Homo sapiens: one gene and its partners. The protein of the gene in region 1 purifies or fractionates together with the protein of each later gene. This does not show direct contact. Each region holds a gene or a part of one and is shown in the gene's direction. Other genes may lie near its edges. The genes, in order: CRYL1, SLC60A2, WDR59, USP54, F2R, USP19 and TBCD.

Region 1 (3,500 bases):
GCCAGGAAATTCCTTGATTCTCTTATGATAAGCCAGCTAATTTTTATTATTTAGTTGTTGACTTTCCATTTGATTTTTGTCATAGTTTTACTTTATGCTGAAATTGTTTAATATCCTTTTAGTTTCTTAAACATCTTAATTATAGTTATTTCACAATTTATGTCTGATACCACCATTATGTGAATGCCCTAAGGGTCTATTTCTAAAGTCTGTTTTCTCTCTTGGTTTTCATTCAGGTCTTCCCTAATATTGTCTATTTGTTTGAGTATGAGACATTGCTTATGAAAAACTAGGGCTCTGGTTGATATTATCATGCTCCAGAGAAGCTTCACTAGAAGGCAGGTAGGCTAGGAGCATATCTCCCTAACTTAATTGTGGATTGAGATAAATTGAGACCAAGTTTCAGTCCTTGTGAAGACTGGTCTGTTGTTACTATTATTCCTGGTATAAGGGATGCTCAAGGGATATAGCCCTTGAGGGTTCCAACTGGAAGCCTGGGGCAGTTACCAGGCCCTGAATGCCAACATTTCCCCCAGCACTCTGAGTATGTTAAAAACTCTGCTTGTCATTTTAGCCATTTTGTCTGTGCTTTTGAAATAAACAGTTACCTCATAGGTAAAAGTGGTGCCAAGTGTAAGCCTTATATCTCTGGGTTCCCCACTACCTGGATCTTGGAAATAAACCTGAATTTTCAAAAATGAAAATGCTACTGTGAGTTACTGATGTCCTTCACATAAACTTTTTTATGTTCCATTTTTCTTCTTTAAAACTCACTCTTTACTTAAAGGGTCTCCAATTTTATGTTTCGTGCTATTCCCAGCACTTTGTTAAAAATAAAAAAGGATTTGTTACAGGCTCACTCCTGTAATTCTGGCACTTTGGGAAGCTGAGGCGGGTGGATCACTTGAGGTCAGGAGTTCAAGACCAGCCTGGCCAACATGCTGAAACCCCGTCTCTACTAAAAATACAAAAAATTAGCTGAGCATGGTGCTGCGCACCTGTAATCCCAGCTACTCTGGAGGCTGAGTCAGGAGAATCGCTTGAACCTGAGAGGCAGAGGTTGCAGTGAGCCGAGATCGCACCACTGCACTCCAGCCTGGGTGATAGAGCAAGACTCCATCCCCAAAAACATTTGTATTCAAAACTCTCACTTGTTCCTTATGAGAAATACTAGAAATGCAGTAAAACTATATAATTGCAGGATTAAATGGAATATTTTCAGTTGTATTATTTTTTCATGTCAAGCATTTTAACACAATTCTAAAGAAATGATTTCACAAACGGTACAAAAACATCATTGGAATGAGGATGGGACGGACACATAATCAGGACAGCAACCGATGCCTGTGCCACGGTGGCCCCCTCTGGGTTCTCTGCGGTCACCTGGAGAAAGGACTGCTCTTTAAAGCAAACAACAATAATCCTTGTAACTGGAACACCTAAGCCCCAGGAAGTCACATTCTTAAACTCAGTCTACACTGATTTTTACTTTGGAAAGATCTCTCTCGATTGGGTATAATTTCTTCTCAATTATGGCAGAACTGTTTAGGATTGGTAATATGCTTTTATTTAATTAAAAATTAAACCCTTTATTTTGATTTTTAAGGAAAAAACAAGCTCCTGGTTAGAGCATAGTGCAGTTAGTTGCCTGTAATGTTGAAAATAGATGTGCTCTTTCCCCTTTTACTTAACACATTATTTATTCTAGAGCAAAAAGATTCTTTTTTTAAAAATGTAAATAATTATGGTGTCCACCTCCTAAAAAGTGTTGTCACAGCAGTCTATTAATCTGACAGATTTTAAAGATTGTACTCCTGGGAGAAATGGTGAAGAGAAACTGGGGTGTTAATTAGGCAGATTAAAGCCAGAGATGTAACTAGTGCTAACAGAGTTTATAATGTAGAACGCCTCCATCTTCAGCCTGAGAGTGGATTTCCTTTTGCTATGATTGCAGTAGGATTCTAATTCATATTTCCTTTCTTACCATGTCTTTTCCTCTTAAAATTATCTAATAGATCTTCTTTGCATGTAAAGTACTCTAAGTATTGAAGTCTTCTAATTTGTTTTTTCTTTCTGTAAAGCACGTTGAAAGCTGCTTCCAGATATCTTGCACTAGCCAATACAGATTTTCTAGCAACAGGATGCCTATTTAAAATGCCTGGGTTGGCCAGGTGTGGTGGCTTACACCTGTAATCCCAGCACTTTGGGAGGCTGAGGTGGGCAGATCACCTGAGGTCAGGAGTTCGAGACTAGCTTGGCCAACATGATGAAGCCCTGTCTCTACTAAAAATACAAAAATTAGCCGGGTGTGGTGGTGCAGGCCTGTAGTCCCAGCTACTTGGAAGGCTGAGGCAGGAGACTCGCTTGACATAGGAGATGGAAGTTGCAGTGAGCTGAGATCATGCCATTGTACTCCAGCCTGGGCAACAGAGTGAGACTCCATCTCAAAAAATAAAAACAAAAAATAAAAATAATAAAATGCCTGGGTGGATTTAAAAACAACAATAACAAACTTGACAGAATTTTTTTTTCACCATGAAAATGTATGTTTTGGAAAATGTATGTTGCATAAGCAAGTGGCTAAACTTCAGAAGTGAGTACTTACCCAGCACACCCTTCCCCTGGGAGTGGTCCAGTTAGCAGACTTGCTGGGGCTGTGCCAGTTTTCCACATCAGGGCCCTAATGAGTTGAATTAACCACACAGGTAACTTTTACTAACCATAAAACACTGAAGTTTATAAATGATTTACTTTAAAAATACAAGTTAGAGAGCACTAAAAGTAATGCCTGGAATAGCATCATGTCGTTTCTTCCCTTCAGGAAAGGCAGGGAAACACCAGTGTCTAAACTCTGCCTCACCTGTCAGCTGCTGATACTGCCTGAGCCAGTGATCAGTCTAAGGAAGAGGGTGATCCTTCTGACAGAACAGTTGTGAGAACTAGGAAGTTGTATTGTGCTTTACCTCTCCCCAGAGTTTTATTTGTCAAAATCAGGGCATGCCGATGGTGGTTGTGCATGAGAATATTATTTGTCATGAGTTGTGTCTCCCTCCCCTGCCTCAAAACAAACAAAACCCAAACAAACAAAAGTCAGTGCTTTGAAAGATGCTGTCAACCTTTAATTAAGCAAAGTCAAGCTGATTACCTTTAGTAGTGGTAGAATTTTTGCTAGTGCTTCACATTTGGTGCCTGTCTCTAGAAAGGGCCCCTGAAAGACAGAGTTGAGAGTGCATGGGTTGCATCTCTCTGGGTTGGAGAGGGAGTGCAGGTGCCTTCTCAGCTGTCTCACTGACATTCTTCCCTGCCTGTCCTCCCAGTCCCTTTAGGGCAAAGAGAATGACTGCAGCTTCTCTGAGCTTTGTAACCAACTGCAAGTGAGGAAGGTGCTGATAAATTTGTCAGACTCCCTTTTTCAGACCAGGGGTATCTGAATGAATAATAGCAAGGAAATAAACTCAGTTGTGACATGGACAGCATCCTTATAACCCCAGCCCAGCACA
Region 2 (4,167 bases), on another chromosome or scaffold:
TGTTTGTGTTTTTTGTCTTAGATTTTTTTCTTAATCAAGTTTTTCCAGAAGAGAGTAGCTTTAGGAAGAGAATAAACACATACTTTTAAGGTATTATCTCAGACTTTAGGCGCATTATGATCATATCAGTAGCACCCATGTACTGAATAAGTGAACTCAAAGAAAAGTTATGTTGGGCAACTACCTCAAAGTTTTGTTATCTCTGCTTGCAATTTTTGTTCAGTCATTGCACAAGTGCTTGAGGGCTTACTGCATGTGAGGCTCTGTAGACTAAGTATTAATGAACTTTCTTTTTTGTCCTTGCAGTAGCAGGTACAGCTTTGATCTCAGTTTTCTGCCAAATGAATGGTTCTGTGTTTTGTGCTCATTCGTTTACAGAGATCCCTCTGAACCACCTTGGAACCAGAAGGTGTGTGGTCTGAGAACGATAAATGGGCTGCTCTCTGCCTCTCTCACAGCAGTTCTGCCCCTCCTTGGGACCACTCGTTTTCTGCATTCCTGGCCCATCTTCTATATATCTCTGGTCCAGATTCCAGAGGAAACCTGTTTGACTTGAATAGATGCCATTGCCCTTATTGGGCCTTGCCTCAGGAGTTCCTCTGTGTATCTCTGGTCCAGATTCCGGAGGAAACCTGTTTGACTTGAGTAGATGCCATTGCCCTTATTGGGCCTTGCCTCAGGAGTTGCTGGTTAGCCTATGAAGGGGTTCCCTTTGGGTTGATGACATTGCTCCCATCCAGAAAGTGGCTACTTCTACCCTCCTACTCCCACCACTCTGCATGCAGGAGCTGTTATCATCAAAAGGGAATGTCCACTGTCTGCTCTGTACCAGAGAAGTGCTAGGCTTCATAAATATTGGTAATCGATACCTGAATGGGATGAAAATTGGCAGGTCCTGGGATGGATGGCCTGGTTCATCTGCATCAGAACTGGAAAAACAAAATCACACCAAATTGCAGACTTTTTTGGAAGAGCGTGTTAGACAAGGTTTGTGGATTGTTTGATTTTTACCAAGAAAGAAAGCTTTCTCCTAAGAGGGTAAGATTTCTACTTGAGTGAGCTCTAAGAGGAGTCCCAGTTTGCAAGAGATATTATTACAGTTCTCATCTGTGCGGACCAGAAAGTTTTCCAAATTCATGCATTTCAGTTATCTAACAGATATTTACTGAGCATTTACCATGTTCAGTAACCAGGGCCCTGGGAATATAATAGGAGAAGGCAGATGAGATCCTTGCCTTCACCAAGCTTATGTTTTTCTATTTTAAGTAAAATTTGCCATGACAAAATTTCTATCAGCGGAAGAGCCAGTAACTCTTATTGTAATAGGTTTTACCCAGTTTTAGAAAAGGAAAGTAGCTAAACTCTTGGTTCCTTGGTGTGTGTTTTTGTTTGTTCATTTCTAGTACTTGTCTATGTCTTTGGGGTAATTTTTGATTTAGAATTTTGTAGAAATTACTCGGCACAGTGTAGTTGAGGTGAATATAGGCAAGAAGGCTTAGGAAGCCTACAACAAAGGAATCTGACACCAACTTTTGAGATTTATTCAGTCCAGCCAAGAGAATATATTTATGGTCAAACTAGATCTTGGATTACAGCTCCAAAGACCCTTGGGCTGACAGAGCAGGTTCTCATTTCTCAGCTCTTTCCCTTATCACTTGCAGTGAACTCTGCCCCCAGGAGCAGAGTATCCAGTTCTGTGTCCAAGCACTCTATGAATCTTTACCCTTGTTGAAGAAATACTCAGAGACAGAAGCATTTAGAAAAGGAAAAGTTTACCTGCAAAGAGAGCAAGAGAATGACTGGCTTGCCTAATAAAAAACGTAAGTATTTGAAGGAAAAAATTAAAAACTGCCAAGGTTTCTGAGTTTGCATTAGACTGTTCACGGTGAAAAACAGTAACTGCCTCATGTAATTATTGTATTCATAAAGGTTATGGCAAATCTTCAGATGTAGTACAGGAAAAACCAAGGATAAAATTTCTTAGGGAGTCCAGGTTTATGGGAAACATTCAAGGTTTTATTGTTTTTTAGATCATCAACAGTTAGATGACCCTATCATTTTTGTTTTGTCTCAGGGTGCAACGTCTTTCTTTTCTGATGGTGATTGATATAGTTTGGCTGTGTCCCCACCCAAATCTCATCTTGAATTCCCATGTGTTGTTGGAGGGACCTGGTGGGAGGTAACTAAATCATGGGGGCAAGTCTTTCCCGTGCTGTTCTTGTGATAGTGAGGAAGTCTCACGAGATCTTTTGGTTATTATAAGAGGGAGTTTTCCTGCACAAGCCCTCATTTTGCCTGCTGCCATCTATATAAGATGTGATTTGCTGCTCCTTGCCTTCCGCCATGATTGTGAAGCCTCCCCAGCCATGTGGAACTGTAAGTCCAATAAACCTCTTTTGTAAATTACCTAATCTCAGGTCTGTCTTTATCAACAGCATGAAAACAGACTAATAGAATGATATAGGAAGTTCTTAGTCTTACTGAAGCAAGGGAAAGTGACATTTTGCTTCTACACCCTCCAGAATTCATAAGCTCCAGAAGGAAAGAGGACCCAAGGGAAAAACGTGATTGCAAAATGTGTTCTTGTCCTCTGCCCAAGTGATTAACCTTTGCTCCAGTGGTTTTCAAACCTGGCTGCTGTTAGAATCACCTGGCAGTGTTTAAAAATGACTGATGCCCAGCATTTTAACTTAAATACCAATTTGGTCTGGAGTGGAGCCTGAGTATGGATATTTAAAAAAGTAACTCCTCCTCCCCAATCCCCCGTAATTGTAATGTGCAGCCAAGATTGAGAACCACTGCTTTGATCAGTGCACAAAACTGGATCCTCTACTAATGACCGTGGTTTTTTCTTAGGCTTACTTACAGATTGATTAAGTTATGCCACTTTTGTAGATCCTTGAAATTCTGTGCACTTTCTTTCTTTCTTTTTTTTTTTTTTGAGACAGAGTCTCGCTCTATTGCCCAGGCTGGAGTGCAGTGGCGCTATCTCAGCTCACTGCAAACTTCACCTCCCGGGTTCACGCCATTCTCCTGAGTAGCTGGGACTACAGGCGCCCACCACTGTGCCCAGCTAATTTTTTGTATTTCTAGTAGAGACGGGGTTTCACCACGTTAGCCAGGATGGTCTTGATCTCTTGACCTCGTGATCCGCCCACCTCGGCCTCCCAAAGTGCTGAGATTACAGGCATGAGCCACCGCGCCTAGCCTGTGCACTTTCTTAAAGGAAAACTGGAGAGGAAGAGATCTCATGTTTTCTATTCACTCCACTGCTGCTTGGTCCAGTGCAGGAAATATTGCTGTTATTTGAAGTCCTTCCTAAAACAAAAGCTCAGATCTTTTGGAGGTTGCCCTTCTAGGCAGGTTTTCACCAGTCAATTTTGATTTGGGGGGCTTAACAGAGTAGGAATGATCTTGCAGGTTTATTACATCTGAATTTAAGACTACTCACCTAGGCTGGGCGTGGTGGCTCACACCTGTAATCTCAGTGCTTTGGGAGGCCAAGGCGGGAGGATACCTTGAGCCGAGGAGTTCAACACTGCAGTGAGCCATGATCACACCACTGCATGAGTGAGACTCCATCTCAAACAAAAAAAATAGACTACTCACTGTTTACATAGCTTTGTACCATATAAAAACTTGTTTGAATAAAATATTGATAACAATAGTGATGTTGGTTTAAGATTCATGTTTCAGTTGTTTCACTGATTTTTGAATTGATACATAATAGCTATGCATAATTATGGGTTCCCTGTGATAATTCGATACATGCATACAGTGTGTAATGAGCAAATCAGGGTAGTTGGGATATCCATCACCTCAAATGTTTATCATTTCTTTGTGTTGGGAACATTTCACATCTTCTCCTGTAGCTATTTTGAAATATACAATAAACTAGTGTTAACTGTAGTCACTCTACTGTGCTATCAAACACTAGAACTTATTCCTTCTGTCTAACTGTATTTTTGTATTTGCTAACCAACCTGCTGCCCTCTGCTCTGTCCCCTACCCTTCCCAGCCTCTGGTAATTATTATTCTACTCACTACCTCCATGAGATTAATTTTTTAGCTCCCACATCTAAGTGAGAACATGGAATATTTGTCTTTCTGTTAAGTGAAATAACTCCCTTAACATAGTGTCCTTCAGTTTCATCCGTGTTGCTGCAG
Region 3 (3,500 bases), on another chromosome or scaffold:
AAATTTCTTTCATTTTGCATTTTTTTTTTAAATAGGGATAGGAGTCTCTGTATCTTGCCCAGGTGGTCTTGAACTCCGAGGTTCAAGTGATTTTCCTGCTGCAGCTTCCCAAAGTGCTGGGATTACAGGCGTGAGCCACCGTGCCTGGCCTAAAAAATATACATATATGGCCAGGCGTGGTGGCTCACGCCTGTAATCCCACCACTTTGGGAGGCCGAGGTAGGCGGATCACCTGAGGTCAGGAGTTTGAGACCAGCCTGGCCAACATGGTGAAACCCTATCTCTACTAAAGATACAAAAATTAGCCGACCATAGTGGCATGCACCTGTAATCCCAGCTACTTGGGAGGCTAAGGCAGGAGAATAGCTTGAACCTGGGAGGCAGAGGTTGCAGTGAGCCAAGATCTCACCACTGTACTCCAGCCTGGGCGACAGAGTGAGACTCCATCTAAAAAAAAAAAAAATATATATATATATATATATATATATATATATATATATATATATATATGTAAATGTATATGTATTGTCTAAAAAAATACAAAAAATATATATGTATATATGTGTAAGACAGGGTCTTGCTCTGTCACCCAGGCTGGAATGCAGTGGTGCAATCTTGGCTCACCTCAGCCTCAACCTTATGGTATCAAGTGATCTTCCCACCTCAGTCTCCTGAGTAGCTGTGAATACAGGTGCACACCACCAAGCCCCACAATTTTGTGTGTGTGTGTTTTTTTTGTTTTTTTTTTGAGACAGAGTCTCTCTCTGTCGCCCAGGCTGGAGTGCAGTGGCATGATCTCTGCTCACTGCAAACTCTGCCTCCCAGGTTCACGGCATTCTCCTGCCTCAACCTCCCAAGTAGCTGGGACTACAGGCGCCCACCACCACGCCTGGCTAATTTTTTGTATATATATATTTTTTTTAGTAGAGACAGGGTTTCACCGTGTTAGCCAGGATGGTCTCGATCTCCTGACCTTGTGATCCGCCCGCCTCAGCCTCCCAAAGTGCTGGGATTACAGGCGTGAGCCACCGCACCCGGCCTTTTTGTGTGTTTTTTTTTGCAGAGATGGGGCTTTACGTTCTTGTTCAGGCTGGTCTTGAACTCCTGAGCTGAAGTGATCCTCCCACCTTGGCCTAAAAATATATATTTTTTTATTTTTGAGATGGAGTCTCGCTCTGTTGCCCAGGCTGGAGTGCAGTGGCGCAATCTCAGCTCGCTGTCACCTCCACCTCCTGGGTTCAAGTGCTTCTCCTGCCTCCTGAGTAGCTGGGATTACAGGCGTGCCCCACCACACCGGGCTAATTTTTGTATTTTAGTAGAGATGGGGTTTCGTCATGTTGGCCAGGCTGGTCTTGAACTCCTTACCTGAAGTGATATGCCTGCCTCAGCCTCCCAAAGCGCTGGATTACAGATGTGAGCCATTGCACCTGGTCTGAAAATAATTTTTTAAAATTAAAACTTTTAGATTTTTTGGCTGGGCGTAGGCTAACGCCTGTAATCCTAGCACTTTAGGAGGCCAAGGCAGGTAGATCACCTGAGGTCAGGAGTTTGAGACCAGCCTGGCCAACATGGTGAAACCCCATCTCTACTAAAAATACAAAAATTAGCCAGGCATGGTGGCGTGTGCCTGTAATTCCACCTACTCGGGAGGCTGAGGCAGGAGAGTCACTTGAACCTGGGAGGCGGAGGTTGCAGCGAGCCAAATCGCACCGTTGCACTACAGCCTGGGCAAGAGCGAAACTCTGTCTCAAAAAAAAAAAAAAAAAAGACTTAGATTTTTCAGAGGAAAACCCCAGTCTGAAGTGTGAAAGTCTTTTTTATAGTTTATAAAAGTGCCATTTATTTTATGAAACAATGCTTTGGGCTATTACTGTCACTAATTAATAATCAAGAGCCTGTGCTGCTTGGCAACTACTGTGAAGTGCTTCCTGGCATCAATGAGTGTTAACACTATAAGAAAACTTAGGCCAGGCATGGTGGCTCACGCGTATAACTCCAGCACTTTGGGAGGCCGAGGCAGGTGGATCACCTGTGTCAGGAGTCGAGACCAGCCTGGCTAACATGGTGAAAGCCCGTTTCTACTAAAAATACTAAAAATACAATAAAAATTAGCTGGGCGTGGTGGTGCATGCCTGTCATCCCAGCTACTCGGGAGGCTGAGGGAGGAGAATTGCTTGAGCCCAGGAGTTGGAGGTTGTGGTGAGCTGAGATCACGCCATTGCACTCCAGCTTGGGTGACAAGGTGAAGCTCTGTCTCAAAGAAAAAAAAAAAAAAAAAAAAAAAAGGCCGGGTGTGGTGACTCACACCTGTAATCCCAGCACTTTGGGAGGCTGAGGCAGGCGGATCTTGAGGTTGGGAGTTCGAGACCAGCCTGGCCAATATGGTGAAACCCCATCTGTACTAAAAATACAAAAATTAGCCGGGTGTGGTGGTGGGTGCCTGTAATCCCAGCTACTCGGGTGGCTGAGGCAGAAGAATCGCTTGAACCCAGGAGGTGGAGGTTGCAGTGAGCCTAGATCGTGCCACTGCACTCCAGCCTGGGTGACAAGAGCGAGACTCCATCTGAAAAAAACAAAAAAAACACACAACTTGCAGGTAATCTTCCAGAGCAACACTGTTTTTTTGTTTGTTTGTTTTGTTTTGTTTTGTTTTGTTTTGAGACAGAGTCTCACTCTGTCGCCCAGGCTGGAGTGCAGTGGCTCGATCTTGGCTCACTGTAAGCTCCGCCTCCCGGGTTCATGCCATTCTCCTGCCTCAGCCTCCCGAGTAGCTGGGACTACAGGCGCCCGCCACCATGCCTGGCTAATTTTTTTGTATTTTTTAGTAGAGATGGGGTTTCACTGTGTTAGCCAGGATTGTCTCAATCTCCTGATCTCGTGATCTGCCCGCCTTGGCCTCCCAAAATGCTGCCACCGCGCCTGGCCCAGAGCATCACTGTTTTGTAGAACTTCCAGTGATGATGGAAATGGGGCTAGTGCGACAGATGTATTTTCAATTTTATGGCATTTTAATTGCCATTTAAATAGCCACTGTGGCTAATGGCTATGATATTGGAAAGTACAGTTCAGAGTACTGAGAAGTGTGGAGATTAGTTTTCACTCTCAAGGAAAGGTAAGATGCTGGAATGTGCAGTTACAAGGCTAACCTAATGATATTTGCAAAAGTGCTGCAGTGGATGACTCCTGTGTTGAAGAGAAGAACTGCAGACCCACGGTGGCTGCCTACTTCGTGTCTCCACTTCAGGATCTGCGAGAAAATCAAGCTCTGTATGTCCAAAGCAGCTGAACATACTTGGAGACAACTCTTCCCTCACAGTAGCATTTCCTTCTTCCATTTTATCTTCCATATAGCCAGAGTGATTAAAAAAAAAAAATCCAGGTTTATGCAGGTATAATTGTAGAGTTTGTTGGGTTTTGACAAATGGATGTAGTCATGTAACCACTGCCGTAATCATGATGTAGAACGTTTCCATCACTCCAAACAGTTCCTTGGTCCCCCT
Region 4 (3,500 bases), on another chromosome or scaffold:
GTCTTGAACTCCTGACCTCAGGTGATCCCCCCGCCTCAGCCTCCCAAAGTGCTGGGATTAAAGGTGTGAGCCACCGTGCCTGTCCTAAGACTTGATATTAAGATACATTTCTGAGGATCCGTATCCTAATGTAGATTTTACAATAACATTTACTAAGGTGGTCTTTGATAGGACTGGTTGATATGGGAAGAATCTAAAGAATAAGGGAAAGCTGGAGTCTGCCTCAGTGAGCTTTCTATCTAAGGAAGCAAGAATACACAAATAATTTTTTTTTTTTTTTGAGACAGAGTCTCGCTCTGTTGCCCAGGCTGGAGTGCAGTGACGTGATCTCAGCTCACTGCAACCTCTGCCTCCTGGGTTCAGGCCACTTCTCCTGCCTCAGCCTCCCGAGTAGCTGGGATTACAGGTGTGTGCCACCACGCCCAGCTAATTTTTATATTTTTAGTAGAGATGGGGTTCACCATGTTGGCCAGGCTCATCTCGAAGCCCTAACCTCAAGTGATCCACTCGCCTTGGCCTCCCAAAGTGCAGGGATTATACACGTGAGCCACCGTGCCAGGCCACAAGTAATTATTTTAAGAATAATAAGGCCAGGCATGGTGGCTCATGCCTGTAATCCCAGCACTTGGGAGGCGGAGGTGGGCGGATCATGAGGTCAGGAGATTGAGACCATCCTGGCTAACATGATGAAACCCCGTCTCTACTAAAAATACACACAAAAAAATTAGCTGGGCACGGTGGCCCACACCTGTGATCCCAGCATTTTGGGAGGCCGAGGCAGGTGGATCACCCAAGGTCAGGAGTTCAAGACCAGCCTGGCCAACATGGTGAGACCCTGTCTCTATTATAAATACAAAAAATTAGCTGGGCATGGTGGCGGGCACCTGTAATCCCAGCTATTTGGGGGGCTGATGGCAGGAGAATTGCTTGAACCCAGGAGGTGGAGGTTGCAGTGAACTGAGATTGTGCCACTGCATTCTAACCTGGGCGACAGACCAAGACTCTATCTCAAAACCAAAAACAAAAAAAAATTTGTATTACCCAAAATAGCAACATTTTTCATTGCAGGTAGTTTGAAAATACATAAAGTATCAAAAATCACTGATAATCTCACTCTTAATGTTTTCATAAGCTTACCTTTGGTTTTCATTTTTATACACATGTACTATATAGTTTTGTTTTTGCAAAAAGCAGTATCCTTTACACTATATGTATACAGTTTAGTATCATGACTTTCTCATGTTATATCTGTGAGCATTTGCTGTAAAAACTACCTTTAATGGTTATAAAGTGTTTCATATGAATGTACTGTAATTTATTTCTTCAACCATCCTACTATTGTTGAATATTTAGGTTACTTACAATTTTTTTTTTTTTTTTGAGGCAGTCTCGCTCTGTCATCCAGGCTGGAGTACAGTTGCACAACCTTGGCTCACTGCAACCTCCGCCTCCCGGGTTCAAGCAATTCTTCTGCCTCAGCCTCCCGAGTAGCTGGAACCATAGGCGTGTGCCACCAAGCCTGGCTAATTTTTTGTATTTTTAGTAGAGAAGGGGTTTCACCATGTTGGCCAGGCTGGTCTCGAACTCCTGGCCTCAAGTAATCCGCCTGCGTCAGCCTCCCAAAGTGCTGGGACTATAAAGTGAGAAGTGACTATAAGGTGAGCCACCGCTCCTGGCTTACTTGTAATTTTTAATAACATAGTACTGTGTTGAATATCTTTGCACTTAAGTGGTCACGTTTCTCATGAGCTCCTTAGAATAACCTTTTAGAAGACTAATAACTAGTTGAATGTTATAAACTTTTTTTTTTTCATTTTTGAGACAGGGTCTCATGTTGTTGTCTTGGCTGGAGTGCAGTGACATGATCACAGCTCACTGTAGCCTTGACCTTCTTGGCTCAAGAGATCCTCCCACCTCAGCCCCTTGAGTAGTTGGGACTACAGGCATGCACTACCATACCTGACTAATTTGAATGTTATAAACTTAAAAAAAATATTGATACATACTGGCCAGTTAGCTTTGAAGAAGACTATACTTCTGAAAACAGTATGAAAGAGTACTTACTGACCATTAATTTTTTTGTCTAGTAGTGTAAAGAAACAAATTTTTAAAAATCTATCTAGTAGTCAATCTATTCTCAATATATTTATCAAATCAAGCGGAGCATGATGACTCATGCCTGTAACCCCAGCTACTTGGGAGACTGAGGCAGGAAAATCACTTGAGGCCAGGAGCTTCAGGCTGTAGTGTGCTATGAGCACATGCCTGTGAACAGCCACTCTCCTCCAGCCTGGGCAACACAGTGAGACCCTATCTCTTAAAAAAAAAAAGTAAAATCAAACTAGTCTTTATTTTTGTTAGAGTCCTTGGTTTAAAAACTGAGTCCTTAAGAAGTGACATGACAGGCTGGGTGCAGTGGCTCACACCTGTAATACCAGCACTTTGAGAAGCCAAGGTGTGAGGATCACTTGAGCCCAGGAGTTCAAGACCAGCTGGGCAACACAGTAAGATCCCCATCTCTACAAAGACTGAGAAAATTAGCTGGGTGTGGTGGTGCGGGTCAGTAGTCCAGCTACTTGGGAGGCTGAAGCAGGAGGATCAACTGAGACTGGGAGGTTGAGGCTGCGGCGAGCTGTGGTCATGCTACTGCGCTCCAGCCTGAGCAACAGAACAAGACCCTGTCTCAAAAAAAAGAGGAGTGATATGACATAGAATAAAGAAGTGATCAGATAGAATTAATTGGGAAGTAGATGAAGGAAAATGCCAATTAGGATTCACATATGAAAAAATATAATTTGGCCAGGTGCGGTGGCTCACGCCTGTAATCCCAGCACTTTGGGAGGCTGAGTCGGGTGGATCACCTGAGGTCAGGAGTTCGAGACCAGCCTGACCAACGTGGTGAAACCCCATCTCTACTAAAAATACAAAAAAAATTAGCCGGGTATTGTGGCACGTGCCTGTAATCCCAGCTACTCGGGAGGCTGAGGCAGGAGAATTGCTTGAACCCAGGAGATGGAGGTTGCAGTGAGCCGAGATCACGCCACTGCACTCCAGCCTGGGTGACAAGAGTGAAACTGTCTCAAAAAAAAAAAAGAAAAAATATAATTTGAGAGTTCTTTATCTTATTGTAAAACATTTATTAAGCACCAAATTACATTACTTTTTAAAATTTATTTATTTTTTGAGACAGAGTCTCGCTCTGTTGCCCAGGCTGGAGTGCAGTGGCACAACCTCAGCTCACTGCAACCTCCGTCTCCCAGGTTCAAGCGATTCTCGTGCTTCAGCCTCCCAAGTAGCTGGGATTACAGGCATGTGCCACCACACCTGACTAATTTTTGTATATTTTGTAGAGACGGGGTTTCACCATGTTGCCCAGGCTGGTCTCAAACTCTGAGCTCAAGCAATCCACCTGCCTCAGCTTCCCAAAGTGCTGGGATTACAGGTGTGAGCCACCACGCCCGGCCACCAAATTAGTTTTTCAAAAAATGCTAAAAAAAAAA
Region 5 (3,500 bases), on another chromosome or scaffold:
ATGCCTGTAATCCCAGCACTTTGGGAGGCTGAGGTGGGTGGATCACTTGAGGCCAGGAGCATGAGACTAGCTGGCAAGCATGGTGAAACCCCATCTCTACTAAAAATACAAAAATTAGCTGGGCAGCCGGGCGCGGTGGCTCACACCTGTAATCCTAGCACTTTGGGAGGCCGAGGTGGGTGGATCACGAGGTCAGAAGATAGAGACCATCCTGGCTAACACGGTGAAACCCCATTTCTTCTAAAAATACAAAAAATTAGCCGGGCGCGGTGGCAGGCACCTGTAGTCCCAGCTACTAGGGAGGCTGAGGCAAGAGAATGGCGTGAACCCGGGAGGTGGAGTTAGCAGTGAGCCGAGATAGAGATAGCGCCACTGCAGTCCGGCCTGGGCGAAAGAGCGAGACTCTGTCTCAAAAAAAAAAAAAAATTAGCTGGGCATGGCGGTGCGTGCTTGTAATCCCAGCTACTTGGGAGGCTGAGGCAGGAGGATTGCTTGAACTGGGGAGGCAGAGGTTGCAGTGAGCCAAAATCGCACCACTGCTCTCCAGCTTGGGTGACAGAGCAAGACTCCATCTCAAAAAAAAATTGGTTCCTCTAGATCAGCATTTTTGCATATGCATGTTTTTGTGATATTAAAGTGCCAGAACCACAAACAAAAAAAATTAAAAATAAAAAAAAATGTTTAAGTGCCAGAAGCCATTCATTCTTTTCTTTCAGCACCCACACACTCATTGTGATCTTGAGAACAGCCTCACATCCACAGGGTCTGTTGGTACCAAGGTCAGGCTTCTGTGTGACTGGGGCAAGGTGAACACAGAGTAAGTTACATGCATTGCAAAGGTAAGAGAGTGATACTTCCAGAAAAGATTGTGAATTCAAAATTTGATTTATAGCTCTGAACCCTAGAGCTATATAATATACAACTTGTTCATTCCCTCATTGTACTAAAAAACTATAAACATTGCTAAGTAGGAGGGAAGATGAACCTAGATTTCCTTTTAACTTAATTAAGTGAGCAAACAATTGGGTATAAAAGCACACTACATGGAAGTGGGAGAGGAAGGATAATAGTAATTTCTTAAACTGCTTAATCGTTATGGTTTCCAAAGTGAATGTATGTCCTGTTTCACACGGGATGCTCCAGTTGCCAGATTTGTAGGCCAGACAGGAATTAGAATTCCATTTTAATGATTCTGAGCTTAATTCAGAGAAGTTAAGTGATCCCTGAACAGAGTCAATATTAGAATACAAATATGTGCCTACCACATGCAGGGCACAGGGTACTGGAGGTTCAGAGATTAACAGGAACAGTTCTTACCCTTAAGGATCAATGTAGACACAAGTGTGTATTCACATTCATCACTGGAGACATTCATTCCTTCCCTGTGACAGATCTCCTGCCAGGCCACCCCTTCATTGTCTGGAGACCCTCTCCCAACTTTGCTTAGGTAGCTTGACCTCAACCCTACACTACCAGGCTCTGCTCTGCTGTCTCTGAGTTGGTACTACTCTAGCTTTGCTCTTCATTTTGGAAATAGATGCCAACATATTGTATTTTATTTTCTATTTCTAGAATTTCCACTTGGTAGTTCTTTGCTGATATTTCCTATTTTCAGTTCATTTCTATAAAATATTTTTCTTTTTTTTTTTTTTTGCACATGGTTGTAATACATTCTTCAAAATCCTTATCTGCTAATTCCAACATCTGGGTCAACTTGAGGTTGGTTTCCGCTCACTGTCTTTTTACTTAAGACTGGGTCACTTTTTTTTTTTTTTTTTTAGAGACAGAGTCTCACTCTGTTGCCCAGGCTGGAGTACAATGGTGTGATGATACCTCACTGTAGCCTCGATCTCCCAGGCTCAACTTGTCCTCCCACCTGGGCTTCCCAAAGTGTTGAGATTACAGGTGTGAGCCACCACACCTGGCAGCCCCCTTTTTCTTTTATTTGACAAAAAATTATATATATTTATAGTGTATAACATAATGTTTTGAAATATGCATAACTTGTGAGATGGCTAAATCAAACTTATAACATGTATTACCTCAAATACTTATCATTTTTTGTGGTGAGACCACTTAAAGTCTACTCTCTTAGCAATTGTCAAGTATACAACACATTGTTATTAACTATAGTCACCGTATTATACAAGAGATTTTTCTAACTAATTCCTTTTAACAGAAATTTTGTACCCTTTGACCAATGTCTCCCCAGTCTACCCTACCCACCCATCCAACCCCAGCCTCTACTAACCACCATTCTCTTCTCTGCTTCCATGAGTTCAACTGTTTTCGATTCCACATATAAGTGAAATCATGCTATATTTGTCTTTCGGTGCCTGCCATATTTCACTTAACATTATGCCCTCTCGGCTCATCCATGTTGTTGCAAATGACAGAATTTCCTTCTTTTTTAAGGCTGAATAGTATTCCACTGTGTATATACATCATATTTTTTATTCATTCATTCATTCATCAGTGGATACCTAGTTTGATTCCATAACTGGGCTATTATAAATAATTCTGCAATGAACATGAGATTGCAGCTATTGACATCCTGGTCTTTTTTTTTTTTTTTTTTTTTTTGAGATGGGGTCTCGCTCTGTCGGCCAGGCTGGAGTGCAATGGCGCAATCTCAGCTCACTGCAACCTCCGCCTCCTGCGTTCAAGCAATTCTCCTGCCTCAGCCTCCCGAGGAGCTGGGATTATAGGTATGCGCTACCAAGCCTGGCTAATTTTTGTAATTTTAGTAGAGACAGGGTTTTGCCATGTTGGCCAGGCTGGTCTCAAACTCCTGACCTCAGGTGATCCACCCACCTTGGCCTCCCAAAGTGCTGGGATTACAGGCGTGAGCCACCGTGCCCAGCCAGCATCCTAATTTTATTTCCTTTGGATGTATGCCCAGCAGTGGAATTGCTGTATTATATAATAGTTCTATTTTTAGTTTTAGAGGAACCTTCATACTGTTTTTCGTAATGGCTATGCCAATTTAAATTCCCACCATCAGTATAGATGGGCTTCCTTTCCCCGTATCCTCACCAACACTTGTTATCTGTCATCTTTTTGATAATATCCATTCTAACAGGTATGAAGTGATAACTCATTGTGGTTTTAATGTTCATTTCCCTGATTAGTGATGTTGAGCATTTTTTCATATACTTGTTGGCCATTTGTATGTCTTCTTTTGAAAAATGTCTATTCAGATCCTTTGTCCATTTTTAAATCAGGTGATTTGTTATCTTGCTGTTGAGTTATAGGAGTTCCTTATATATTTTGGATATTAACCCTTTATCAGACGTATGGTTTGCAAATATTTGCTTTCATTTCATAAATTTTCTCTTCACTGTTGATTGTTTCCTTTGCTGTGCAGAAGCTTTTTACTTTGATACAGTCCCAGTTGTCTACTTCTCCTTTTATTGCCTGTGCTTTTATGGTCATTATAAAAAATTACTGCCCAGACAATGTCATGAAGCTTTTCCTCTATGTTTTCTGCTAGTAGTTTT
Region 6 (3,274 bases), on another chromosome or scaffold:
CAGCTGTTGCTATGGCGCCTGCCAAATGTTCTCATCGTGCAGCTCAAGCGCTTCTCCTTTCGTAGTTTTATCTGGCGTGACAAGATCAATGACTTGGTGGAGTTCCCTGTTAGGTAAGCAGTGGACCTTGGTAACTGTGGGTGGGGTGTGAGGACCAGGATGGGCATCCTGAGCGCCTGTTGCCTGTCTCACCCCTCCCTGACTGGACCTGACCTGCAGGAACCTGGACCTGAGCAAGTTCTGCATTGGTCAGAAAGAGGAGCAGCTGCCCAGCTACGATCTATATGCTGTCATCAACCACTATGGAGGCATGATTGGTGGCCACTACACTGCCTGTGCACGCCTGCCCAATGATCGTAGCAGTCAGCGCAGTGACGTGGGTGAGGGCACACACAGCCAGCAGGATAGGTGGTAGGGGTGGTGGTGCAGACTTTGTTCACACTCTTCCCACCCTGCTGTAGGCTGGCGCTTGTTTGATGACAGCACAGTGACAACGGTAGACGAGAGCCAGGTTGTGACGCGTTATGCCTATGTACTCTTCTACCGCCGGCGGAACTCTCCTGTGGAGAGGCCCCCCAGGGCAGGTCACTCTGAGCACCACCCAGACCTAGGCCCTGCAGCTGAGGCTGCTGCCAGCCAGGTGAGGCATGTGGGAGGCTTTACAGAATACTGGGGGACAGTTCACAGACTGGGGCCGGGTTGGGGGATATAGCTTCCTCTCCTCCAGCCACAGGCCCATTGAGCCTTGGGATTCATGAGAATTGCAGAGTTCTCTTAACATCAAAGCTTTAGCCAGAGGCATCCCCATGCCTTGGGGACACTAACAAACATACAAGTACACTAACATGCTGCCACTGGCAAGCACATTGGCACCTACTTGGCACAGGTCAGGCAACTGCTCTGAACCTCACTGGGCACTATGCTGTGAATGAACTATACCTGACACTCTCCTAGATTTCCTCTGCACATTCCCCACATGCTGGCCCACACACCCTCACTTGTGATGTCCCTGAGTTCTAGTGTGCACTCAAGACAAGGCCTATTTGGGCTGGCCATGGCCTCTGGTGGCTGTTATACTCTTTGAGGTAAGCATCTGTCTTTGCTGAGCCTTCAGGATCTTCTCTTTAGTGACATGGTGTGCCATAGGCCCAGTTAGTGGGCGTAGGCACATCTCTTTTCTGGACTGGCCGTCTCCTTTCTGGCTCCATCCTCTCTTGAGCCTTCTCTGTCAAGCTTAGAGAAATCCTTGCAGAAGACTGGTCAGGATCTGGGTATGGGTGGGAAGGAGCAAGGAGATTGCTCTGGGATTGGCAGTCCTGTTCTCTATGAATCGGTGTCCTTTGGGGAGGCCTGGACTGAAATACTAACCAGATAACTCCCCTCCCACCTCCATGCGGAGCTGCATGTGGATTGAGAGCTGTTTAGGGTAGGCCAAAATGCTGTCAAGATTCTCTTACCCTTGTGCTCTTACTCTGGACAGCCCTGAGGTTGGCTGCCTGCCTTCCTCCTTGCTGTTTGATCTAGAATGCAGGGTGTTAGCCCCAGTCACCCCAGGTGGGACTGTCATGGCTAAGGGTCTCAGGGACACTGGGTCCTCCCCACCCCCGGGGTGCTGATGGCCGTTTCCACATACCCTAGGCTTCCCGGATTTGGCAGGAGCTGGAGGCTGAGGAGGAGCCGGTGCCTGAGGGGTCTGGGCCCCTGGGTCCCTGGGGGCCCCAAGACTGGGTGGGCCCCCTACCACGTGGCCCTACCACACCAGATGAGGGCTGCCTCCGGTACTTTGTCCTGGGCACCGTGGCGGCTTTGGTGGCCCTCGTGCTCAACGTGTTCTATCCTCTGGTATCCCAGAGTCGCTGGAGATGAGCTCGCCTGCAGGCAGCTGCTGTGAGCTGGCCTACCTGCCTGCCCCAGGCCATGCCTGCCTTTGTTGTGGGGAACACCTCTGGGCTTTGGGCCTCAGCTTATGCATCTGGTGGGAGAGGGTGGGGAGGTTGTGGCCCCTGCAGGGGCAGAGTATCCTAGGGTGTGTATCCATCTGGCTGTCTGTCCATTCATCCTGCTGCTCTGACCCTTGGCCTCAGGCTTGGCCCTGCCCAAGCTACTTCCTGTACTTAAAAGTGTTAATAAAACCAGACTATTCAGGCCCAATCTCGTCTCTCTGTCTCAACGCCGCTGCTGTCTGCGCCTGCCTTGGGACCCTCCCTTGGGTGCCAGGGCTCCAAGCCAGCACCCCCGGGATGCCAGGCGGCATGCTGGGCAGCCCCCAACCCCTGTCCTCGTATTCTGTTGCAGGGACTAGGCCCTGGCCAGGCCCCCGAGGTGGCCCCCACGCGGACAGCCCCTGAACGCTTCGCCCCCCCTGTGGATCGGCCAGCCCCCACCTACAGCAACATGGAGGAGGTGGATTAGCAGGTCCCTGGCTGATGGGGGGGACTGGGTTTGGGACACCCACACAGAGGGCCAGCTCCTTGCCGCTTCTCCTTCTCTAACCCAGAGGACACTGGCTCTGTCAATGGGAAGCTGAGGGGTATGATTTGGGTGTGGAGACCTCTCAGGTTGGGACTTCTTGTCAGCTTGGACCCCTGACCAGTGGGCTTTGGCTTCTCCAGCCGCCTCCAGTGCTGCGTGATTTGATTCTGTTGTACCTTCAATTCTTCTGACCCGCATTATAAACATTATAATTTTATTCTAAAAATTGTAATTTTTTTTGCATTTTGGAAGTGACTGCTGCTGTTTAAATATATTTTAAAAATAAATAATAAGTAAGTAGACTTAGTGACTGTGATCCACCACATGCTGGGGCCACCTCCCCTCCCCATCATTTGCGGTGTGTATGTGTGTGTATGTGTGTTTATATATGAGAGACCCTGAAAGTGCCCTAGTCTGAAGGGAGATGATGGGGTCCCAGCTCATGTCCTATGGGTCATGAAGCCCCCAGTGCTATCAGCTTTTTGGAGCCTACCTGCTGCTCTTTCATCCCACTGGTTCTGGATCCTACATAAGAGGCAGCTTGGTAGGCATCGTCAGGATCTCAATATAGCCAAGGGACAGAGGAGTATATGAAGCACTGGAGCTGACAGCGTGGAGTAAAAGGTGCATTCACCAGAGCAGCCTGGGGCTGACAAGTCAGGGAGGACTTGGGGGACAGAAGTACTGGGAGATCTTCCTCCTCCTCTCCTGTCCTCAGCTTTTTCTTTGCTGTAACTTGAACACTAACTGCATCCCTGCAGGTAACAGAGCAGGAGGAAAACTGCTGTGGGGCAGATCTTGC
Region 7 (3,500 bases), on another chromosome or scaffold:
CAGTGCGCCCCCGGAGCCCTGTCTCTCTAAATGAGGCTGACGTGGCTTGGCCTGAAGGCCCTGCCCCGTTACTCTGGGTGCATAGTGTATGCCTTTTTCTTCATAACTATTTCTGGGAAAGAAAAATATGCTCCATTTTATTATTGTTCCATATTAGAAGACAGACATTGTGGAAGGAATAATCAGGTTATCCATTCAGTTTCTTAGTTGTAGTGGTAGTAAAGTGATGCGTGTATCTGACAGATGATGGTGAGCAGGCGTGCTGGAAAGGAGTAGCATGACTTAGGGGTTCTTTTGGTTTGGTTCGAAAGTCATTGCTGTGCCGAGATCTCAGGGTGACCCGCTGTGTCCCTGGTCAGGTCCTTCTCTGACCTCAAGGGTGACCTGCTGTGTCCTTGGCCGGGTGCTTCTCCAACCTCAGGGCGACCCGCTGGGTCCCTGGTCAGGCAGGGGCTGCTCTGACCTCAGGGTGACCACGGTGTCCCTGGTCAGGTGCTTCTCCGACTTCAGAGTGACCTGCTCTGTCCCTGGCCGGGGGCTTCTCCGAGCAGAGCTGCTGTGCGCTCACCGTGCTGCCTTTGTTTTAGGATGCAGCAGTCTCGGCCCTGGCTGCTCTATGCAGTGAATATTACATGAAGGAGCCGGGGGAGGCAGATCCCGCAATTCAGGGTGAGTGGGGAGCCCTTTTCTTGAAGACTCCAGGGGCTTCCAGCAGGAAGCTGCTGGGGAGTGTCTGGGCACGGAGGAGGCCTCGGTTGTGCAGTGGAGCAGAGCCACCACGATCATGGCTGGAGTGGGACTGTTCGGGTCTCAGGTTCCCAGCCGAGGAGCTGTGGGCAGGTCCTGCAGCTGCCCAGGATGTTGCATCAGCTCTGAACAGGTGGCTCAGCAGGGACGCGTCTCTGTTGACGGCACCCTCTTGCTCCATCACCCAGGCTGGAGTGGTGTGGCGTGATTCGGCTCACTGCAACCTCTGCCTCCTGAGTTCAAGCAATTCTTGTGCCTCAGCCTCCTGAGTAGGTGGGACTACAGGTGCCTGCCACCATACCCGGCTAATTTTTGTATTTTTAGTAGAGACGGGGTTTTACTGCATTGGCCAGGCTGGAATCGAACTCCTGACCTCAGGTGATCCACCTGCCTCAGCCTCCCAAAGTTCTGGGATTACAGGTGTGAGCCACTGCACTCGGTCAGTGTTTTTAGAATTTTTGTATGCACCGTGACATTTTTCTGCTGTGTGTTTCACTCGTTAATACATTTTGCTGTTTTTTCCTTCTTTATGAAAGTAGCATTAGGCTGGCTTTACGCCGTGTCCCGTGCGTAGCTGCTGTGCCGCCTCACTGTACATCCTGCACCCCCGTGCTGAAGTTCAGGCTTGCTTCTCGCACATCATGTTCGAGGGATCTGCTTCATGAATCGTACTTTTATTTTTAAAGTGTCACATGCACATATGTTGGCCCACAGTGTTCCTTTATGTCATATGATAGAACATGCATTATTAATCACGTCAAAAGTGTGTGAATCACCACTTAAAATTATTATAAGTATATAAAAATCATGCATTAGCTTGGCATGGTGGCACACACCTGTAATCCCAGCTACTTGGGAGGCTGAGTGTGGGGTTGAGGCTGCAGCGAGCTAAGCTTGCACCACGGCACTCCAGCCTGGGTGACAGAATGAGACTCTCTCAAAAAAAAAATTCTCTTTCTGATTCCTATTTTGAGGTAGGCCACTTTGGAAACGTGTCTGCTTTGGGAACCTCAGGCGGCTCCTCCTTTGTTCACTGTGGCTTTGCTCCTGTTTGGGGCACACGTCGGGTGTGGCTGTACACGATGGGCAGCAGAGGGCCTCTCTTCACACTCGTTGCTTCCTTTCAGAGGAGCTGATCACGCAGTACCTGGCTGAGCTTCGGAACCCCGAGGAGATGACTCGCTGTGGCTTCTCGTTGGCCTTGGGCGCCCTTCCAGGCTTCCTTCTGAAAGGCCGGCTCCAGCAGGTGAGGCTGGCCACGCGCAGTGGACGGGGCCTAGGGCGAGGGTGTGGGAGCCTCGTGTGTTGGGGCATGAGGTAGGCCCAGCCGTTAATAAACCCATCAGTGCTTGTAGCTGGGAGGGGGTTCCTGGAAACCGGCACCTGTGGCCAGGAGGAAGGGGGCAGAGGGCACCCAAGGTCTGTGGCCCCTTAGGGCCCTGGCGAACCCTTTGCTGTCAGAGGACAGACTTGAAAAAGCTGAATTCTGGGAGGGAGGAGAAGGTGTTGTTTGTAGAAGCAGCTGCCGAGAGTGAGGAGAACACAGTTGCCTTTGTGCGTTGTGGAGCCGGGTCCTGTTTTGGTTGCGGCCGTGCATCCTGCATCCAGGTCGGGGCAGAGGTGGTTCCACGTCCTCCCAGAGGTCAGCCCCACGCTGGCCTCAGTGACCTGCTCTCTCACGCTTTCCTGTGGTGCTGGTCCCACTGACCAACCTGCCGGGAACTCCTGCTTGTCTCCCCTCCGGCCACCTGGCGTCTGAAGCTGGAATAGGCCCTGGCCACTGGGTTCCCCACGCCCTTCCCTCCCCATGGGATCCAGCCTTGGCACTTCAGGATCTGCAGCTCCAGACGGACTCCTGCCTGTGTGGCGGGTGGGCCTCGCAGCCGCCATGCCATCTAAAACTCGCATGTGGGGGTTTATCCAGTTGAAACACAGATAAATGTGAAACAGGATCACTTGGAGATATGACAGATGAGGTTGTCGGGACCCAGCAGCTTCCTTTGTCAATACCCCAGGTCTCAGCGTAGGACAAAAGGGGGGGACCTCAGGTAGGGTGTGGCCAGACCCCCAGTGACACCCTGGGGTGGGGGCTGGCCGTGGAGAGGCTGGAGGTGACCTCTCCCCGGGTGTCCTTCCTGGGTTGTACTGGGGGCCGTGGAGAGGCTGGAGGTGACCTCTCCCCGGGTGTCCTTCCTGGGTTGTACTGGGGGCCGTGGAGAGGCTGGAGGTGACCTCTCCCCGGGTGTCCTTCCTGGGTTGTACTGGGGGCCGTGGAGAGGCTGGAGGTGACCTCTCCCCGGGTGTCCTTCCTGGGTTGTACCGGGGGCCGTGGAGAGGCTGGAGGTGACTCCTCCCCGGGTGTCCTTCCTGGGTTGTACTGGGGGCCGTGGAGAGGCTGGAGGTGACCTCTCCCCGGGTGTCCTTCCTGGGTTGTACCAGGGGCCATGGATGGCCGTGAGGAAGGTGGTGCCAGGAGCTGCCTATCTCATGGTGTGGGGTCTGTGGCTCCGGGCCAACATTGCCACCTCCCTAAAGAGTGCACTTTGTTATAGCTTATGGTTCTTCTGTGATTCTTTATTGCTTTCCAGGTTCTCACAGGTTTAAGAGCAGTTACCCACACTTCCCCCGAGGACGTAAGTTTTGCTGAGTCCAGGAGAGACGGCTTGAAGGCCATTGCGAGGTGAGTCCCAACAGTTCCTCCCTAAAGTCGTAAGTCTCTGAAAGGCCAGCAGATGAACGCTAAGGGGGATGTT

What was found.
Region 2: the proteins of CRYL1 (region 1) and SLC60A2 purify together in Homo sapiens (affinity purification with mass spectrometry; one large-scale study listed by BioGRID and IntAct). This does not show direct contact.
Region 3: the proteins of CRYL1 (region 1) and WDR59 purify together in Homo sapiens (affinity purification with mass spectrometry; 2 studies listed by BioGRID and IntAct, with this or other methods). This does not show direct contact.
Region 4: the proteins of CRYL1 (region 1) and USP54 purify together in Homo sapiens (affinity purification with mass spectrometry; one large-scale study listed by BioGRID and IntAct). This does not show direct contact.
Region 5: the proteins of CRYL1 (region 1) and F2R purify together in Homo sapiens (affinity purification with mass spectrometry; one large-scale study listed by BioGRID and IntAct). This does not show direct contact.
Region 6: the proteins of CRYL1 (region 1) and USP19 purify together in Homo sapiens (affinity purification with mass spectrometry; 2 studies listed by BioGRID and IntAct, with this or other methods). This does not show direct contact.
Region 7: the proteins of CRYL1 (region 1) and TBCD purify together in Homo sapiens (affinity purification with mass spectrometry; 2 studies listed by BioGRID and IntAct, with this or other methods). This does not show direct contact.

Annotation. Positions count from the first base shown.
Region 1 is NC_000013.11:20,442,358-20,445,857, reverse strand, and holds part of CRYL1 (lambda-crystallin homolog), read left to right. Parts: intron 1-3,500. UniProt on the Homo sapiens protein: Has high L-gulonate 3-dehydrogenase activity. It also exhibits low dehydrogenase activity toward L-3-hydroxybutyrate (HBA) and L-threonate.
Region 2 is NC_000006.12:111,276,339-111,280,505, forward strand, and holds the end of SLC60A2 (sodium-dependent glucose transporter 1), read left to right. Parts: 3' UTR 1-3,667; downstream 3,668-4,167. UniProt on the Homo sapiens protein: May function as a sodium-dependent glucose transporter. Potential channels for urea in the inner medulla of kidney.
Region 3 is NC_000016.10:74,978,624-74,982,123, reverse strand, and holds part of WDR59 (GATOR2 complex protein WDR59), read left to right. Parts: intron 1-3,500. UniProt on the Homo sapiens protein: As a component of the GATOR2 complex, functions as an activator of the amino acid-sensing branch of the mTORC1 signaling pathway. The GATOR2 complex indirectly activates mTORC1 through the inhibition of the GATOR1 subcomplex.
Region 4 is NC_000010.11:73,511,343-73,514,842, reverse strand, and holds part of USP54 (ubiquitin carboxyl-terminal hydrolase 54), read left to right. Parts: intron 1-3,500.
Region 5 is NC_000005.10:76,726,126-76,729,625, forward strand, and holds part of F2R (proteinase-activated receptor 1 isoform 1 precursor), read left to right. Parts: intron 1-2,586; exon of another isoform or gene 2,587-2,708; intron 2,709-3,500. UniProt on the Homo sapiens protein: High affinity receptor that binds the activated thrombin, leading to calcium release from intracellular stores.
Region 6 is NC_000003.12:49,107,550-49,110,823, reverse strand, and holds the end of USP19 (ubiquitin carboxyl-terminal hydrolase 19), read left to right. Parts: coding exon 1-113; intron 114-219; coding exon 220-380; intron 381-461; coding exon 462-640; intron 641-1,638; coding exon of another isoform or gene 1,639-1,866; exon of another isoform or gene 1,867-2,151; intron 2,152-2,295; coding exon 2,296-2,412; 3' UTR 2,413-2,774; downstream 2,775-3,274. UniProt on the Homo sapiens protein: Deubiquitinating enzyme that regulates the degradation of various proteins by removing ubiquitin moieties, thereby preventing their proteasomal degradation. Stabilizes RNF123, which promotes CDKN1B degradation and contributes to cell proliferation.
Region 7 is NC_000017.11:82,923,065-82,926,564, forward strand, and holds part of TBCD (tubulin-specific chaperone D), read left to right. Parts: intron 1-587; coding exon 588-669; intron 670-1,874; coding exon 1,875-1,993; intron 1,994-3,335; coding exon 3,336-3,427; intron 3,428-3,500.